Regions from separate parts of the Homo sapiens genome. Here region 1 is linked to region 2. The links come from fine-mapping of genetic effects on gene expression. A gene starts in region 2. The other region holds a variant in brackets. All regions are shown on one strand. Distances are from middle to middle. Region 1 holds the start of GZMK (granzyme K). Region 2 holds the start of ESM1 (endothelial cell specific molecule 1).

What was found. PIP is the estimated chance that this variant, and not a neighbour inherited with it, causes the effect.
Region 1: its variant is fine-mapped to the expression of ESM1 in skeletal muscle (GTEx, PIP 0.96).

The regions. Positions count from the first base shown.
Region 1 is chr5:55,020,902-55,031,090 of GRCh38, reverse strand. GZMK (granzyme K) reads right to left here and starts at 6,835. Exons shown (of 5, transcript NM_002104.3): 1 at 6,705-6,835; 2 at 6,284-6,431; 3 at 507-657. The coding sequence starts at 6,768. LOC102467081 (a long non-coding RNA gene) reads left to right here and starts at 6,922. Exons shown (of 3, transcript NR_104662.1): 1 at 6,922-7,162; 2 at 8,379-8,463; 3 at 9,569-9,792. The variant G/C (reference allele first, on the strand shown) is at 4,443.
Region 2 is chr5:54,979,709-54,989,937 of GRCh38, reverse strand. ESM1 (endothelial cell specific molecule 1) reads left to right here and starts at 4,345. Exons shown (of 3, transcript NM_007036.5): 1 at 4,345-4,721; 2 at 7,792-7,941. The coding sequence starts at 4,421.

The sequences.
Region 1 (10,189 bases), 41 kb before region 2:
TGTGTGGAATAACATCCATAGGTCATGACTTTGAGGGCTGGGCTGCTTCCTGCCGGATAGGACCCTTGAGTATGGTCTAGACCAAGTTCGGACTAAATTAAGTGTGGTCTAGACTAAGCTGTAACTCACTGCTGAGCCCCCGAAGTCACTTGGTTGGCTCTGTTGTATAAACAACTGTTGTATTTTTTTACTTGCTAATGAGAAAAGCATTTGGGAGAAAAGCTTTCAGTGTGGATCCTTGGGCCTGTTAAGATGTTCCCCTCCTACATATGTTGAGTATCAGAGTTGCTTTTCCTTGTATAAACACAGCCCTGGTGCATTTGTGATAAATTCTTGTTTCTTTCAAGACAGTATATGGAATAACATGGGCCCTTATAAAATATATCATAATCACCTCAAACATGGGGAGGGTGCTAGCAAAATGCATTTTGTAGGTGATTTAACTAATTGAGCCATCCTGTATAAAAATGTTGACAAAATAGAAGGAAGACAATGCTACTACCTACCTTAACCAGCATGATATCATTTGATTGAGGATCTGATGTAACTCTTGAGAATGGTATAAATTTTTTGATCTCCAGTGTTTGTTTGGAGGCCTCATTCTTTGAGAGAGAGTGTGCGCCTAAAACCACAGTGGGAGACTGGCCTTTGGTAAACCTAAAAAAAGCAAAGACAATGAAAGCAGCAGAATGATTTCCAAATCCCCCAGTGGGGAGTGGTGATGGTCGAGAGGGTTGTATACACAGAGAAACAAGGGCTATCTCCAAGGTAACCTGCCTAAGATTAGGTGGAGTGACAAAGGTCTTAGTGGAGCCCAGCATGAATTGATATTAAGGGCCAAATGACTTGCCCTTAATCCCACCCTAAACCAATTCCCTGGCATTGCAAAAGAATATCAGAACTTGTATCCAACTGGGGGAAGAAAAAGGAGTGAAATCCTAATTGACTTAGATCAAGTTTAAAACAAAATTATGTTCATTTATGTAAAAATAAAGCAAATTATATTCCTTGAGTTTGTAGTTTGAGATTTACACCAACTACCATTAAAATTTGTTTATTGTGGTAAAGTATACATAATGGTATAAGAATGGTAAAATTTACCATTTTAACCATTCTTTAATGTACAGTTTGGTGGTATGAAGGACATGTATATTGTTGTTCATCCACCACTATCATCTCCAGAACCCCAGAACTTTTTTTATCTTCCCAACATTAAGTGTTTTAATAATTAAGGTAGCCAGGTGTGGTGGCTCATGCCTGTAATCCCAGCCACTTGGGAGACTGAGGTGGGAGGATCATTTGAGGCCAGGAGTTTGAGAGAAACCTGGGCAATACAGTGAGACCCCCATCTCTAAAAAAACATTAAGGGGCACACTGGTGCATGCTGGGCATGGTGGTGCATGCCTACAGTCCCAGCTGTTTGAGAGGCTGAAGCAGGAGGGATTGCTTGAGTCCTGGAGCTGGAGGCTGAAGTGTCACAGCCTGGGTGACAGAACAAGGCCCCATCTCTTAAAAACAAACAAACAAACAAACAAACAAACAAACAAAAACCACAAAGATCCCCACCCTACACTTGCTCACCCACATGCCTAGACTTCATCTCAGGTCAATGTGGGGAAGTAAGGCCTATTACATGACAGTCAGATATGTCCATATGTCCTGTCCCCTCAATTAGAACAAAGATTTGGACAAGAAAGGAAAACTTTCCTCAAGGTAAGAAAACAGTGCTAATTTAAAATGAAGATACTTTAAGGTTAGTAGCCATTCCATCGGGGAGATTTAGAGGATACGAACTGGTGAGTGAGGTGAAGAAATAGGTTTGTTTTTTGGCTTTCTTTTTTAACGTTTTTTTTTTTGAGAAGGAGTCTTGCTCTGTTTCCCAGGCTGGAGTTCAGTGGCGCCATCTCGGCTCACAGCAACCTCCGCCTCCCAGGATCAAGCGATTCTCCTGCCTCAGCCTCCCGAGAGGCTGGGACTACAGGCTTGTGCCGCCACACCTGGCTAATTTTTGTATTTTTAGTAAAGACGGAATTTCATCATGTTGGCCAGGGTGGTCTCAATCTCCTGACCTCAGGTGATCTACTGGCCTCAGCCTCCCAAAGTGCTGGGATTACAGGCGTGAGTCTCTGTGCCTGGCAAGGTTTGCTTTTTAAATCTCTGGTCATACACAGTTCTAGTACCAGTGTTTCAACAGTGCCACAATTGATCTGATTTACTCTTTGTTGGATAAAATTACATTTACAGCAGTGATAAAGTAGAAATAATTTTTTGGAGATTTTGGCAGAACCGTAGAGCCATTTGTATACTACAGATACATTCCATTACAGTGTCTATCTTTATGAAGTCCACCTCAGATCTTTTAATTGTATTTGTTTGTTTACATGTAACTATTTCTTTGCTACTTGGAAAAGCTACCAAAGTAGATTGCAGTAAAAACACACATACTCATGCATATAGATTAATAAAGATTAATAAAAGTTACAAAGAGCACAGAAACATACAGAAAAAGGAAGACATGATTGTTTCAGATTTGAAAATGGCAAATGCCTGTGGTAGAGTGGGTTTGCTTATGGCAGAGCTGTGACTGCCTGGAATGACCACTTTTTGGTTTCTACCAAAAGAGTTTATTTTTATTTATTTTGGGAATTCCAGCTCTATTTGTTGAAAAGTTTGCCTATTGCAAAATCAGGACCGGGTGGAAATTTCTCATAGGATGTGGACTGGATTTCCTAGGATTGATTTGAATTCAAATTCAACATACCCACTAAACCCAAAACTTTGTAGGAGAAGGATGACATAAAAATCTTCAGGATGAATGCTCTAACAGAAAGGTGGGCACGTGCCTAAATGACTCACACAAAGAAGGCTATGAGGTACAAATGAGAGGTATGGAGGGTGGATTCTCACTAAGGGAGGGATGCTGAAAAAATGTCTGGGTTTCTTTCGTCTTTTACTAATTTACTCGGCTAGTTATTGCCTTTGAAATGTTTTGGTTATTTTTGTCTCCACTGGGACATGTTAAGACCAAAAACAACCCAAGCAGACCATTATTCCTTCTGACCTTTCAATTTCTAGATATCCTTCAACTGTAATCTGTGCTACTCAGGTCAAATTTTCTGCCCACAGGGTACCTGGAATTACTTGAGTTCTGGGATGCCACCTCCTTAGCTAAACTGAAGTCTGAATTCACACAAAGAGGAAGTAATAATGCCAGTGTTTTTCAGTTGCACAGCACAGGATTTCCCCAAATGCAGTCTTCAGACTTGCTTCAGAATCACCTGGAGGTGTTGGTTTAAAATGTGGTTTCCGGAGTCCCACCCTGAGCTTTCCTGGAAGAGATTCATATATGGAGCAGAACTACAGTGCGGCTTATAGTGGGTCTGCTGAAGACATCTGTAAACATTGTCTCCATTGAGCCTAACAATAACCTTTTTCAAGGCTGGTAAAGCTGACGGGCTGTGTATTCCTTACCAGTAAAAGATTGTTCTCTGACTGGTCCAAGGTGACACACCTCATAAATAGGGGAATCAGGACCCAAATTTGGCTTTTGGTGACTCCCAGTCCAGTGCTCTTTCCTCAATCCCTCTTTGAACCCCGTGCCAACCCCCTTCAAGCCTCTTCTTTTCTCTGCCAGCGCGCCTGGACACTCAACAGTGGTTCTGCTTAGACCCGCCCCTTGAGGTCTGGCAGCAAAGGCAGGGTCCCTATGTCTTGGAGATTTCTCTTGCCTAAGAGAGAGGGAGAAGAACTTGGCTGTCAGAGAGGGAGGTCTTCCCAGTCTTATCTCGTCAACATCAGATTAGTTCCTTGGTTATTACCATGGAAGGCACAGATAATTGTATAACAATACTCGATAACATCTATTAAGTTCTTTGTGTTCTGTGCTAAGCATTTTACAAAGCTTCCCTCATTTAAACCGCACAACAGCGTGGTGAGATAGGTATTATGACAATCCCCATTTTATAGATGAAGAAATTGAGGTTCAGGTAAACGAATAAACTTGAGGACCTTTGCCTCCAGGAGGCAAATTCGGGCAGGATTAAAGCTCAGTTGGCTTGAATCTAGAGCCTGAACATTGAACCATTTTGTTCCAGGAGCCTTGAGCATTTGAGATGGAGTGAGGCCATGTGGAAGGGGCTGTGGAAGGTTCCATCTAACAACTTGCTAGGCAGGTTGGGGCAGGAGGAAGTGCTCTGTGAGAGGGGCCTGGGAGAGAATCAGGAGAACAGGGTACAACAGCTGGTGAGAGTTTTGCTTCTGGTAAGTTAAAATGCTGAAAATAAGTTTGTACAGGACATTTTTTATCAATTTCCTTTTATATTTGACATGGCAACTAATAAAGGGGCCAGAATATTGAGGGAGGAGATGTGTGGATGGCTGGTGAGAAGGGAGCACTCCCAGGTTTGGCCCTCTTCAAAATTTTGCTGAGAGAGAGGCTTGGG[G/C]CAAACTATTCCCACAGGATACTGGGGAGTACATTTGTGGGAAGCCACCATTGAGCTATTTTGTAAATATTTTGAATTTCATAAAGCTTAATATTTTTCCAACCACCGATCTGCCTACTTTTTACACCCAAGTGTCCTGTAGAGGAAATTTGATCTACATATTTTGCAGTTCTTTATACCCCAGCCATTTAAAATGATATTTAGCAATAGTTTGTTTTAAGAAAAAAAAAACAAAACACAAAAAACTCCAAGACCTCTCTCCAGTCTTTTGTCAATAATCTCTTTCCCCAATTTGGGAATCCGCTTCTCGTGAGTTAAATCCACTTGACAAAATTTAAAATTCAACTTAGTGATATTATTTAATTTCCTATAACACTTTATGGCTAGTGAAGCACTTTTTCATACACCATGTTTCAGGCCTAGCCAAAGAAAGAAAGAAAGAAAGAAAGATCTTTCAGTGTATTTCTTTCTTTCCATCCAAAGTTTGTTGAACATTTAGAAGTCAAGCTCTGTGTCTGGGGAGGTTATAGACCATTTGAATGTGTATTATGAGCATATTTGAAGATGTGCATATTTTGCATCAAATGAACATTCGCTGACAGTTCCCCACTCTGTCTCTCTGATCTCGAGGGGGCAAATGCCCTGGAGAAGAGAGAAGTGATGGGGATGAGAGTGTGATTTCTATGAGGGCAAGAACCCTGTGTAAATGAAGTAACCATATTAAATTGGAAATCAGTGGCTTGCTATTTAGAGATAGCAGAAGATCTCCCAGTTTGCAGGCTTCAAAACTTCCAATTTGTGATCAAACAGTTCCATTTAAATGGGGTAATCAGACAAAACCCCCAAAGCATAGAAAAGCAAATCAATTCAATTGTTCTGTTTAGATATAGACAATGCCTGGAGAGCAAACCATTACAGCTAAGAGAGATCTTTAAGTGAAAGAAAAGGAGAAGGCTCCATTTCAGCTTATTAGGTAAGAAACATAAGGAAACATATATACAAACAAAAAACAAAACCAAAAACCCAAGCAAACAAACAAAACAACAAATACCAAATTAGTTTTCTACTGGCATTTCCTTTTGTGATGGTTGCAGCATCCCAAGAGGGGTTTTGTGCTTTATTAGCTGAAGTAAGAGAATCCTAGGCTGAAATGGACTTTGGAAGGTTTTACTCTGTCTTCAGAAAAGCTTTCATTCTAAGTATCCTAGAAAATAACTCTCTCATTATCTTTCTCTTTCTAGAAGTCATCAATAACTTGTTTTTTTCCACCTAGGAAAGTTGTAAGTGGTGAGTAGCTACTGTTAGGTAGCTACTGTTAGGAGTGGCAAAGTAGGCTTCTCATGCGTATAATACTAATGATAATAGCTGCAATTTTTTTGTGCTTACTAAATGTGCCAAGCATGCTAAAATACTTAAACAGATACTATTTAATTCTCAAAACCCACAAAGCAGGTATGATATGATTATTACCCCTTTGTAAAATGGGGAAGCTCAGAGCACAGAGCAAGCTCAGGTTGTCTGATTTCCTTTTGAGCAGTGTGATCTAACAAGGTCAAGAGTACTGCTGCTTCAAGTATTACTGTTGCTGTGTTCCCTGCATTATACAGAGGACTTGAATTTGTCTAATGTCTTGCCTGGGAAAAGCAGCTCAGTTCTCTCTGAAAAGGAAAACCCAAGACAGAAAGCGTGGATGTGGAAGAAGGTAAATAAACGCCACCAGTTGGTCAGTAACCACAGAAGCTAACAGTAGATCAAATTCTCATTCAGGAGAGGTAAGCTTCTCTTGTACCTATAATAACTTTCAGAAAAAACACATGTCTGGAAAAGTGTGGAGGACTCACCGATATTGGCAGTGGGCTGCTGTCAGCACCCACTGTGGATCAATCAGAACACCTCCACAAACGTGATGTCCGCCATACTGGATGGAGGCCATAAATGGCCTGGAATGAGGTGACACTTCTTTCCCTCCAATAATTTCCATATTGAAACCTACAAAAGTAGACCAAAAGGTTTCACACAAAAGATCTAAACTACTGTTTCATGTAATTCTTCCAATGACAGTCACTATATTATTTTCAAAGCTTAAAAAACAACAATAACCCTACCTAAAAGCTACAATAATTTTACTGATGAAAAATTTGTATAATACATTACAGTTCAGAAAGATAGGAATGATTGTGAAAATAATTTTCATCTATAATATAACAATATAGTCAGTAGAAATTCATTTAATGTTTACATGTAGATATAGGAGATACTTACACACATGAGTCATATAAGCCCCAACTATTAGGAAAAACAGAGAAAAGGAAGAAAACTTAGTCATTTTAAAGATTTAGATTTAAGAAGCCCAGATGAAATGTGTTGATCCTGTGATGAAGGAAGAAGATTCTGAAGACTGAGTTTTGTTCTTGTAAGTTTTGACTTTCTCACCACAGGTGCTCTAGGGGTAAGATTTTTTTTCACACCTAGGTGTAAACGTTATGTATCAGTTTGGGGACTTTCAGGTCTGTGCTTTTAGCACTTTTTTGTTTTGTTTTGTTTTGAGACGGAGTCTCTCTCTGTCGCCCAGGCTGGAGTGCAGTGGCGCGATCTCGGCTCACTGCAAGCTCTGCCTCCTGGGTTCACGCCATTCTCCTGCCTCAGCCTCCCGAGTAGCTGGGACTACAGGCGCCCACCACCACATCCGGCTAATTGCTTTTAGCACTTTTTTGGGAGAGGTATGTATGCCATAAAGAACTCATATCTGGAGATACCATCTCTAATACCTGTATCAGAGTACTTATGCTATAAAGAAAATTTATACTATATGTGTATATAATATTTATAAATGAAAAATATCCATGCCATAAGAATGTAATGAAGTTGCAGACAGAGTTCAAAGATGTCCATTGCTCTCAAGCAATACTTACTATTTTTCCTGGCACAAAATGGTGCCTATCATATTTCATTCTTCTCTCTTTTTCATTTGGACATAGATTTATGATGAAGAGAGACATGGACCTTGCACAGATTATGGTTACTTCACAATGTGGCTTAGCTAAAGCCTGAGCACCAACCAGAGAAAACCATATGTTTTGCAGCAAACATCCCTACTCATGTCGTTTCTCTAAGTTTGCCCAAATTTGGTTAAATTTTAGTTACATTTTTGTGAGATTTCATAATGTTGTTAAAGGTGAACATTGGCAACTATTTTTGATTCAGAGTCTCTCTTTTACTCATTTTTAATTGAAAATGGCCATGTGTTTTTCCAGGGACTTAATAATAATGTCTTTTAAAAATAAAGGACTGCATTTTGTAATTCTTCCCAGGAACAGATGACAATGCATTGCCAGGCCTTCAATACAAAAGGTATTAGACTCAAGATTCTACAAGATTCTGTTTGTGCCAGACACTGATCAGCAGTGCAAATATAAAATGAATACAAACAGATCACGCATCAGAATGCCAATCACTTCCTAGTAACACTGATCAAAATTTGCATTAAATCAACAGATCTTTCTTTTAAGAGGTATGCATTTTATCTTCCATTCATTTTAGAAAGGAGAATTAAAATCCAGAGCTATTATGCTCGGCAGATTGCAAGAGACTCCTTTCAAATTGTTTTCTAGCACAAAGAGTAGGAATAATAAAAAATAATACTATAATTATGTATTATTCATTATAACTTAATAATATATAAGTAAAATACCTTATTTCCAAAATTCTTTTTATATGATCATTTATGGTTTCATGTCTATGTCTTTGAGGAAAGCAGGACAACTTATGTTACAATGGAAGAAATAAGTTCCAAGAGGCTAAGTAATTTGCCCAAGGCAACACAGCTTATGACCTAGACCAAATCACCTGCCTGACCTCCCTGTATGTTAAGTTGTATGTGAATGAGTACCCTCCCAGAACACAGAATTTTATAAAAAACCTGCTTTCCTTGTACAGGTGTGTGGCAACAGTAAAGCTTTCTACATGTTAAACAGAATGAACAAAACCAACGCAGAGCAGTGACTTCCTGTCAGAGCAGAAGGTGAGATAAGGAGGAGCCAGATTAAGAAAAGCCACAAGCTTAATAAACCAAACTTATTACTCCCACTCAAATGTCCCTGTGAATTTTCAAGTCATCTTTGTCACTGTTGATGTACCTTGGATGCTCTACTGTGTGCCATTGTTCCACATTGGAAGGCAGACAGGATGGCGTCAGTTCCCTGCTACATCCCAGTGATGCTGGGATCGTAAGGAAGATGGTGTGTGACAGGTAGAAGTGATCCAAACTCTAAGGAAGAAATAAATTGTAAAGGACGAAGCTTTGTGTGTGTGTGTGTGTGTGTGTGTGGCGGGGGAAATGGGAATGGTTACAAACATCTCTCAGCTGCTTATTTCTGAGTAGTAAGGATTAATGTCCACATAGCGTTGTACAAATTGCTGAACGTTTTTAGCTGTATTTCCAGGGAAGTGGTTGTCATTAGTCTTGTTTTATGGATAAATAAACTGAAATTCAGGGACTTGCTTGAGATTACCGAGCTAGCAGGTGGCCCTTAAGCTCCTATGTGCTGGCTCCCGGCTCTATGTTCCTTTCAACCTGGCTACATGCCTGCCTCCTTTGAGAAGTCCCTGGGGGTTTAGGGGCTCTGAGACACAAGCTAGCTGTGCAGAAGAGAAAAAGGATTTAGCCATACACACTGCGTGTAATTAGACATGGGTGAGATTTAGTTCAGTTGGGAAGAGTCTCATAACTCTTTCTTGTAGCTGACCTAGAAAATTCTGAGAATCATGTTGGTTAATAGTAATGAGTTATTTGGTTTTGGCTTTAGACCGATTTGCCAGTTAATAGTATCATTTGTTATTATATTCACGATTCTGGATTTGAGAACAGTGGGCTGTGTAACATGATGAGCTCGGCGATCTAATTTATTTCTGGGTGTTGGTTTTTGTTCTGTTGAGTCTGCTGCAGGGAGGGCCATGTTTGCTTTGGATGGCTTTACAGCAACTGTACCGGACTGAGCAAGTGCAAGGCTGTGCTCAGAGGAGGGCTGGCTTCACACGTCATAGCCTTGTGGCTCTTCTTTGCTGTGTTTAGCTGTCTTTCTTGCTGCTCTTAGAGATGTTTTGTTTCTGCTTCTCCTGTGTTTCAGGAGACCCTTATAGAACAGCTGTGCCACTGCTCCAAAGGCCTCGTGTGGTTCTATCCCTTGGACTGCCTTTCTTCAACAGCCCAGACACCTGCTCTGTCAGATTTATAAGCCACACCCCCTAGAGCCATGCCAATCAAAGCATGGCCCGCAGACCTGTGCCAGTCTCCGAACCTCTTTGTTACCGATTTGGAGCAAGATGGGGACAGAAATTGAGAGCCAGAGTTTAGAAACTGTAACAGCGACTTAACATGGCACTGTATTAATTTATTTTATTAATGAAATAAAATTTGTCCAATCTAATAAAAATTGGGTGTGTATTTTGTATGCCTTTGTTTTTTATTTAATTACTTTTTTCTATTTATTTGTGTTGTATAAACGTATCAGTTCACAATGGGCTGAAACTAAAAACAAACAAATTAACAAACTAAAACTCCAAACACATTGGTCTTTCCCACAGGTAGTCTGAGAAACACTGCTCTGTAGACATAAGTGCAAAGCAGATTTGTTTCAAGCTCTTCCCATTTATTCCCTTTTACATTCCTTTGAAAAATGTTCTCAATATCAAGTTTTCCCAAGCTATCCAACCATCCCCAGCCCTTGGCACTTGACATCAGGATTTGG
Region 2 (10,229 bases):
GAAGCCTAATTAAAGCAGATGCATTTCACTTTGCTCTTCTAAGCAGGTGTAGTTTTTGAAAATTGCCTGTAAATCATATATTGGTACATTCAATTCCACTTTGCTATTAAAATTGTCTTTATTAAAAATAGAAACTTAAAGAATTAGAGAGATTTCTTTTGGGAAAATATTTGCTCCAAGACATAAGATCACATTTAAAGAATGAAGCCAATCTTCAGAAATCAGACGCTTGATAATAATAGTCACGATGGTTTCATATCTGTTGCCCTGTTTGGCCCTCTTATTATTGAGGTACTGAGGAGAAAGGAGAGGTCTAAGGTATGTGGCATGTGACTTGCCTAAGATCACATATCTTGGCAGTGGTAAAGCTGTTTCTAGGCAAACTGTACTCAGGGCAGGAGGCTCTGGGAAGATTCCTCAGGCCCTGGGCTTTGACAGCTGACCTGTGACTGCCGTGAATCCCAGCCAGTTTGGCAGAAGTATTTCACCAAGTTCTATTGGCTATGAGGGGCTCCCATGAACTTTCCAGGGTGGATGTGATATTGCCAAGCCCAAGGTCAACAGGACAAATTTGGTTAGCTGTGAAGGAACTGCCGCAATGGGACTACAGTCTTTGCTCAGGCTCCATCCAATCCTCGATGTCTCTTGGATTGGATGTGCTGTTTCTTGACACCTCTACCTCATTCCCACAAGTAAACACATTCTGCAGCTTAACCTAGCCTGCCCTAGAATCTGGGCCTCACTTTGCTTCTCCTGGTGGAAAGAGAAAGAAAGGGAACACATTGATGCCCGTTTAACTTACTATCATCTGAAGATGATTCTGGGAAACAGTTGGTTCCTTTTATGTGTTTATTAAGTATTAAGCTCCTGCTGTGGGCTAGACCTTGCAGTAGGCACATGCAAAATTGCTATCAGCTAGTGTCAAAGCAGGAAGACTTTCAGATGGTATCAAAAACCACAACCAAAACTAACCTAAAAACCAAATCACCTAAAATCTGCATGTAAATGTCTCCACTTGCTCCTCCAAACTTTATGCCCTCAAGTCTGCCTTTGTAATTCAATTTAAACCAGACTTCTCTGGTAGAGCTGGTTTGTTAGGAAGGCACAGTAAGTACGGTATAATTCGCTTTACCATAAACCACCTTCTGAGAGTCTGGGATCTGCCCAGAGCCTTTCCACTGGACTACTTTTACCTATCCAGAAAAAAATCCTTGTTATTTGGTTAGAAGCAATCATAATGTACAAAATAAACACAAAATATTAATGCACATTACCAAAGCTTATTTTCCTAACACAATACCAGCTTTAAGAAAAAAATCAAAGTGGCATTTTAAGTATACAGGGTATACTGGGTTAAATAGATATTTGGTTTTATCATTTCTCTGCCCCCATTGCAAAACACCATATGCTGCAACATTTGGATCCACAGATGGTATGGTTTGACCCACCTTAGTTTGAACTTACATTTTAGGAGTTGTGAAAATCTTGTGCAATTCCTCTTGCCCTTTCTCACTCTGACTTGACAACTGATATACAGGCAGAGCAAGATGAGAGATGTTCCAGTCCCCAGCACAAAGCAAGTGAAATGGGTGGACCTCATGCACTCACTATCAACAGCTCTGCCATCATCTTATTGCTTTTTAATGCAGCTTAGAGTTGGCTCCTTGGTTGCTCGTGCTCCCATTTCCTAACCCTTTGTGGTCATTGCTAACTTTCCTAATGGAATTCATTGATCTGGGCTCAAGGCTCTGGGGAAGACAGAAATCACTAGATAAAAATCTTACAGGGATTGTGTTGGGACAAATGGTTTTTGTTGGGTCTTGGAGGGATTGAAGGTTCCCCTAAAATGAGTTGTTAGGCACTGTGTATTGAGATAGTTCCACCACTGGTGAACTCTATTGGGCATATTTTCTGCACTTACCTGTGCATTGTAGTTTGGTTTACTATTTGGATTTGGTACTCTCAACTTACATTTGTTTAGTTGTCATTTACTGAAGGTATTATCAATTTGGTTTCCCTTTATCTTCCATAGTGGAAGAGTTTCATGTCTTTATGTGCTATTCAGGAGGACGAAATCCACTCCATTCCTTCTGTATTACATCTAGTATAGCTTACCATGTCACCCACCTTGGGCACCTGTTTGGCACCTGTATGTATTTGATTTTACAATCCTTAATCCAGTCTCCAGAGCTTGTTGGTCTCAGGGCTGGAGTCCTGGCTTCACCATTTGCTAACTGTGTGATGATGGACAAGTTACTTACCCTCTCTAGGCCTCAGTTTTCTCATATCTAAGATGGGGATAAGAATAGCACCTAGCTCTTGAGGTTGTTTTGAAAGTTAAATGTGGTAATCTACATAAACTGCTTAGCATGGCATCTGGCACACAGTCAGATCTCTGTAAAGGTTAGATATTATTATTAACCACTATTCCAGTTAACTACTCCTCAGAAAGTGGTGTTCAGTAACAAGGGACATTTTCTAGGGTCAGCCTAAATTGCGACCTAGGCCATTGGAACTATTGGCCATGAAAGCACAATTATGTATTGTAATAGGCAATAGAATATGTGGCTCTGACATTAGACTAACATCCATCCCTTCAATATAGGGACCTTAGGCAAATTAACCTCTTTCTTACTCAGTTTCTTCTTTTAAAAAATAAGCATGATAATAGCAGCCACTTCATAATATTGTGATGAGGTGCAAATGAGTTAATGCATGTAAAGTGTTTAAGCTATTAACTCAACAAATATTACCCATTACTGAAAACATCAGAGTGTGCCACCTGCTAAGTAAGTGCTTCTGGGGAGATAGAGTATTTCAAATTGGATTGTCATGAAAAATTTGGAAAATTTGAAAGCTAAAACTCTTGCTTTCATTTCCTACTGCCTCAATTCTCTGTATTCTGAATTTACTCCCTGTGTCCCCCTAAAATTGCATTTGCAAAAGCCGATCTTCAAGTTACATCCAATGCCCGCTCTGCCTCATCTTCTATGGGAAACAAGAATTTTAGAGGTCAGGTAGCCTAACACCATCAATTCTCAAAAGAGGAAGCTGAGGCCAAGAGAAGTCCTGTGAATTTCTTACAGCTCATTTGTGACAGACCAAGAATTACCCACTTTACTGGGTTGTTATTTACTAAGTGACAGTGAGTCTATATCTCTTTTGACAAGTGAGGTGGGGGCATGGAATTCGGCATGTGGTTGGTGTAAGAACTCCCCTCTCTCCTCTTTAACCTTACTTAATAAGACCCTGGCACAGTTGATATTTTAAGAGGGCTACTCTGTTTTCCCAGAGGGACCTAGGCACGGTAACCCTCTTAGCATGCAGACCTTGTTTCCTGAGGGGTAATGTTTCCCTTCCCTGTGACTTGTTTCTTGGGGGCTGTGTTCTGATTTTCCTGCTGAGCCACTTGTTGCCTTGGGCTGGCTGCCGCGCTTGGCAGTTTTTAGTGAGGGCTCTGATAGATGCCAGGAGGTGAGGGGAAGGGCTCTGGGTGGACTCCGTCATTGGACAAGCAGACTTAGTGATGGATGAGCCTTCCCCTGAGGAAGTTTTGGATCAGAAGTCCAACTGATAAGTTTTTCCAGAATTGAGTAACCCAGAAGCAGTGCCGAAAGGATCTTACCTCTCTTGTGGCTTTTTGTATTGATTTTAAAAGAAATTCTCAGAGGCAGTTCCACATTGTACTGGAAGCACAGCTATATCCACAATAGGCTTAGATATATGTAACATGAATTGCTTTAGAAATAACATTTGAGGAGAGGGGTGAGAGGAAGGAAGAGAGGGTCTTAAAAAATAGCCCTATCAAAATATTTTCTTTCTTCTAAGTATTGAAAAGACACAATATAACCCTTTCTTCTTTCAAATGATCTCATAGCTATTTGTTGAGGGGAAATACCAAATGTTTATTATTTTTTTTGAAGAAGCTTCTTCGGTCCTGATGATTCATGTTGATATCATTTTCCTCCTGACTACAGAGGCTCTGAGACAAAGCTACACCTCAAGTGATATGCCAGGGTCAGAACAATTCCCGTCCTGAAGGAGGGTGTGCAACCTTCTTTATCCCTCCTTCACAGACGTCCTTGAGCCCTTGAGACGGATGTGAGTGAGTTTTTCAGTCCTCATGCAAAACAACCATCTAAACATAACAGATGACATCAGCTTGGGCTTTTCAATTCCTGGATGGCAGCAGCGTGTTAATCCAGCCTTCATCCTGGATTTCATAAACCAAAACAAGAGAGCCTGGCAGGAGGACAGCGCTGCTGCTGGGTTGAGGAAATTGATGACGGGAAAGCATGCGGGCAACCCAGTGTATAAAACTCATAAACGTGTAGGCAGAGGCTCAGCTACCAGTTTGGACGGCTGCTTCCCACCAGCAAAGACCACGACTGGAGAGCCGAGCCGGAGGCAGCTGGGAAACATGAAGAGCGTCTTGCTGCTGACCACGCTCCTCGTGCCTGCACACCTGGTGGCCGCCTGGAGCAATAATTATGCGGTGGACTGCCCTCAACACTGTGACAGCAGTGAGTGCAAAAGCAGCCCGCGCTGCAAGAGGACAGTGCTCGACGACTGTGGCTGCTGCCGAGTGTGCGCTGCAGGGCGGGGAGAAACTTGCTACCGCACAGTCTCAGGCATGGATGGCATGAAGTGTGGCCCGGGGCTGAGGTGTCAGCCTTCTAATGGGGAGGATCCTTTTGGTGAAGAGTTTGGTATCTGCAAAGGTAAAGAGTGACCCCTTACCTCTCCCCTCCCGGGGCATGCTGAGAGCTTTTAGCCAGCTTGGGAGGTGAGGTGGCTTTGCTCCTCAAGAGTAAGAGGGAAAAGGCAGGTGGATTCTTGACAAGGCACCACACAGGTATTGTCATGGGTAGAGACTGAAGGATAGCTCCAAGTAGCAACTGAAACCAGTGTGCAGGAAGGCACAGAAAGAAGTGTGGCATTTTACTCGTTGCCTTAGGAGATCGCAAAAAGAAAGCTGCAATGGAAGATTGTGTTGGCTCCTTTTCTGGAAAACTTTAGAAACTTGACAGGTAATCTGTTAAGGATGGCTTAGGTGCTCTCTCCTCTGCGAGGCAGCGATTACAAAGGTCTGCACTAGATAACCTCTTGGAATGGTTTCTAGCCCCCAGATTTAGTGATTCTTTGATCTTGAAAGGGTCCACAGGATGGAGGGCCACTCTCAAGATCAAATATTTCTGATAAACACAAATGCACTTTATGGAATAGAGTGAGCTTAAGTCATCTAACAAAATAACTCACTCTTCAAAGAGGGTCCCCTGAAGCATAAAACAAACCTCATCTGACTTTATAAAGGTTTTGGTCATCTGGAAAAATAGCAGATGGTGTTAAGACAAGGAAAAATAACAATAGAGAAAAATAAAAACTGGAAGTCTGTAAAGAATGAGGTTGACCACTTGTACACTTAAAGAAAAACTTCGTCGGTTGAAATTTTAGCTAAATAATGTAGTTAAGCATTTGTAGAATTTATTTTAAACATAGTAACTAGTTTAAAATATTTAACATTTTAAAAATGTTTAGAATAAAAAGAATGATGATTTAAAAATACTCTACGTATAGATATCTCATGATCTTATTATGAAGAGCTATTATTAAGAAGCAACACATGCTATAACCCCATCCATCAGTTGTGTAATACCAGGAAGCTTTCAAAATTATAAAAAGGACTGAGAAATTTCTAAATAATTATTATGTTTTATGTATTTAATACATTTTTTATGAATAATATTTATCCAGTATTGTGCTAATCTCATTAATTCTCCTACTTCTTAGACATATAATGTATAAATTAATCATCTTTTAATTTGCAAGACATACAAAATTAAAAAAACAAATTCTTAAAGTATTAGGAGAGTTTTATTTTTTGCTTAGTTTATTTTTGTTTATATACAATAAGAAATAGAATATTGAGAAAATATTTTGTTTGGTGAACACATATGCATGTTTCTTTCAACTGAATAGGATCTGTATATTTTGTAAATTATGGGGCTTATTGACCAAGAAAACAGTACTTCACATAAGGAAATTAGGGAGGAAGTGGTTAACACAATCATACTTATGATATAGCATGTATATGCAGTGGATTGCTTTTTCTCTTGGCATAATATGCCTTTGTACATGTGATTGTAAATGTACATTACATATGGGCAAAGAAACAAGCTGTGTGGCATCTGGAGTCTTTAGCACTGTAGTATTCTACTGAATGATCAAGATACTAAAAAGATCTTTAAGATTGCTTCTTTTGGCTTTCTTCAGGTTGCTGATGAATCTAGTTTTAAGCATTTTTCTCTCTGCTGGAAATAGGAGACTTTGTGAGCCTTAGCAACTCGAGATAGAGATAATACATTTGGCAATCATCTCCCTTCTTCAGCTTTTTAAAAGAACATCCACGTGAAAACTGTAAACTTCAGCTGCGTATCCAAATGTCTTCTAAATATTCAGATGTCTGTGAACATCTTGCCCAGATTAACAATCAGCAGCCAACACATATTTAATGAACACTTACTATCTGCCCAGCACTGTTCAGTACATCAGGGGATACACTAGAAGTATCTCTGGGAATTTGGCTAAAGTTTTAGTTTTCAATATCGCTGCAGGCACAGTCAAATCCTAATCCTGTGTGCTTTTCTGGAACAGGCCTTTGCAGGATCCCTTTTTAAGATCTCTTCTTCCCAGCAAAGAGAACAGTGTTCAAAACCAGGTTCCTCTGTGATCTGAACCATATTGAAAAGAGCACTCATAGATCTCTTTAAAAAAAGATAGCTCATTGATGATCTACTTGGTCAGTTAGTGGAGTATTAGACTGCTAGAGACTCAGATGGCTCACAATTTGTTCTTTACCCACCTGTGATTGTACATTTACAAGGTATTTTCACAACAAGAGAATATTCTATATCTATTCTGCTGGCTTTTAAAGGTTGGTTAGTCTACTGAGATGCTGTTTATCCTAAAAACAGCATTTTAAATAATTTTATGCATTTTAAATAAACGACTTTGTCCTCTTTATTTCAATGTAGGATGTTTTGGCATAAGTGTAAGCACTGGAGGTCTAAAAGCTTCTAGTTCTTGGTAGGTGTACAAACCCTCAGGGTGTATAAGCCCTGAGCTTTCTTGCTCATTTAGCATCTTGCATGTTAGCCTTGCAGAGGATTTTACTAGGGAGCCCTCTTAACTACTGAGGGAGTCAGGCAAGTTGTATGACATGCCGTTTCGACAAATAAGGAACTTGATAAGGGTTGGAGCAGATGGAAGATTGATTGCTTCATGGTGAGCTAGGATGATAGCTCTCTCCCTGGTTAGTTTGAAGCCCTTTCCTATACACTTAAAATAGTAAATTATCTGTGAATACAGTAGATTCAAAGATAGCATCACATTTTAAAAACTCTTTGAGGAGCTGATGCATATATGTCTGTTCAATTTCCCACCTTTGCTGAGCTGTTACAGAGGTCATCTGTGAGAATTTATTGGTATCTAAGCAGAACATCACCAGAATGAAGACTGGTCCAAGGAGACTGGCTGTGTGTAGCTGTCTTCAACTTAACTTTACATCACAACACTAAGCCCGAGGCATCCATTATCTGTTCTTAATGTGTGATTTCATATTTATGACTCAAAGTTTCAACTTTCAAATCCTGGGTTTGGAGAATTGGATTTTACTTTACAGTCAAGGTTCATGAGGTTGGTTCAAATCGCAAGGCTATGCACCCAGGGCTGTTAGGATGGAGACGTATTTACAACAAGCAGCGTCCTCTCCAACCTTTCCTTTGTCCCCAGACTGTCCCTACGGCACCTTCGGGATGGATTGCAGAGAGACCTGCAACTGCCAGTCAGGCATCTGTGACAGGGGGACGGGAAAATGCCTGAAATTCCCCTTCTTCCAATATTCAGTAACCAAGTCTTCCAACAGATTTGTTTCTCTCACGGGTAAGCACTGATTCTGGTATAAGCATTGGAAGAATAGTCTCATTTCAGTGTGAATAACTTAGAAAATATCTGTGAGTAGAATAAGATGTGGATTGGAATGATTTTATTTCCTTTGCTTTACTCAGGGGAACGGTGGGTGGTAGCTGAGTTTGGTTGCTGTTGCTGTTTTCTAAAAAGAGCCCATCAATAATTTTGAGGTTTACATATAATTTCTCATAAAGTTTACCTGGTTTAAATATGATTTATAGGAGGATAAATATGATTGATTACCAAAAATCTGTAATAAAAAATAACCAACTGAGATACACAAAGTTCTTTAAATTCTTCAGTGATCTGTTTTATATATTTACTAGACAAAACTATTTATCTCCCAACTTCACATAGAAAAAGTACTGTGAGGAATTTATTGGATAAGCTTTAAGAGTCAAGATAGAAAATATAGAACGTTTCTTTTTTTTAACCAAATGAAAGCATTTAAGTGTAATAATTCCAAGTGTGTGTTTTTATGGATTTTGGAGAGGATAAGAAATAGTATGTGATTGAAATTTTGGAAATGAATGAAACTGTAGTAATACGTGCTGCTTGTTAGTCCGTGTGTATTTCTTATACAGGTGTTAGAATGTGAGGAATACACAACCTATGAGATGGTGCTATGTACATATTTGTTTATTTTGTTGAATAGCTGGCCAGTACAGGAGAGTTCCATTAAACTGAAAGTAGCTCATTTAAAGCAACATACATCACTAAAGCTTAGGCCTCCATTGCACAGAATGGCGATTGTAGTTAATAATTCTTATATATTTCAAAATTGGTAAAATAATAAATTTTAAATGTTCCCATCACAAAAAATAAGTATATGAGGTGATGGATATGCTACTTAGTTTGAGTTCATCATTCCACAGTGGAGATATATATCAAAGTATCATATTGTACCCTAAATGTATACAATTATTATTTGTCAATTAAAAACTGTATTTAAAATTATAAAAAATAAATAAATAATAAGCCCAACATATAGTCACAGAGATGGCTAGTATCAACAAATGATATACTTTTTCCCACCACAACTATAAATAACAATTCAAGTCCATTTTATTTAGTTTTTGCTTTTGGTCTTTTGCATTTCAAGTTAATAAAATATAAACTATTTGGCAAAGGTGCTTGTTTTCTAATTTTACCTCCTTCTTATGTATGGGTCAACTAAACACATTAAAATGAAGCGGAAATATCGTGCTTTTAAGTGAATTATTAGTTTTAAGTATGGTGATGCCCATAACAATACTTACATTATAGGTTACACAAAAATATTTCCACATCAAAGTTAGGCATTGAGATTCTTATCAGAAATATTTGAAAAAAGCAGTCAGTTTCTCTCTTTTCTGACCTAGGGTATTTCCTTTCATTAGCTAAAGGTGCAACCAGCAAAAGATGATTTTTAGTGTGATCTTGGTAAACCTTAGTCAGGTTCAGGATGGAGAGCAGAAAACCCTAAGGACCTCTTGGGGAGGCTGCCTAGGGTTCTTTGTAGTCTACATGTGTCTTTGAGACTACATGAGACTTCCAGGTTCATGCACTGGAGTTTACAGGAGAAGGCTTGGGCTTCACTCCTGACACAGGCTTCACATCACCTCTGCACAAACCTGTTTGGGCCCAGCCTTTGAGAGCAGGCTAAATGGCTGCAAGCTTCACCAGCACTAGGACCCCCAGAGCACGAGCTTGTCTTCTCCAACTTTCCACCTGCTGGCTACAGCACTCTTGTCAAATGTGCTTCCTGTCCACAGTGTTCCACTTGGTGTTCTTTTTTTTGGCAGTGAGCTTCCCAAGTTGGGAATTCACAAGTAAGTTTTTGTGTACGAGGGTCTTGGGGGAGTAAGATCTGGAATGTTTCATGGACTTACACACATTCGTCTGCTGGGCCACGCTAATCTTCTTAAAGCATTCCACATCAGAATGTGCACTGCCAAAGCAAGCACACCTCACTACTCCTTGAAGTAGAAAATTTCATTTTAGCAAATTTCAAATATTACAAACTTTTCTCATATGTAGAGTGAGAAGTGTCTTTATGAACGTTCTACCCATTGGTCTGCCTTTTGCCTTCTGGATGCAGCAAAAGTTAATCTGTCTTTCATACCAGTTAGTGTAAGAATCTAACTTGAGACCTGTTTGTACAACATTTGCCTATTCCATAAGTATTTATTAAGTGCCTACTATGTGGCAAGCACTGTCCTAAGTGCTGGAGATATAGCAGTGAGCAAAATAAAGTCCCTACCTTTGTGAAACTGGAATTC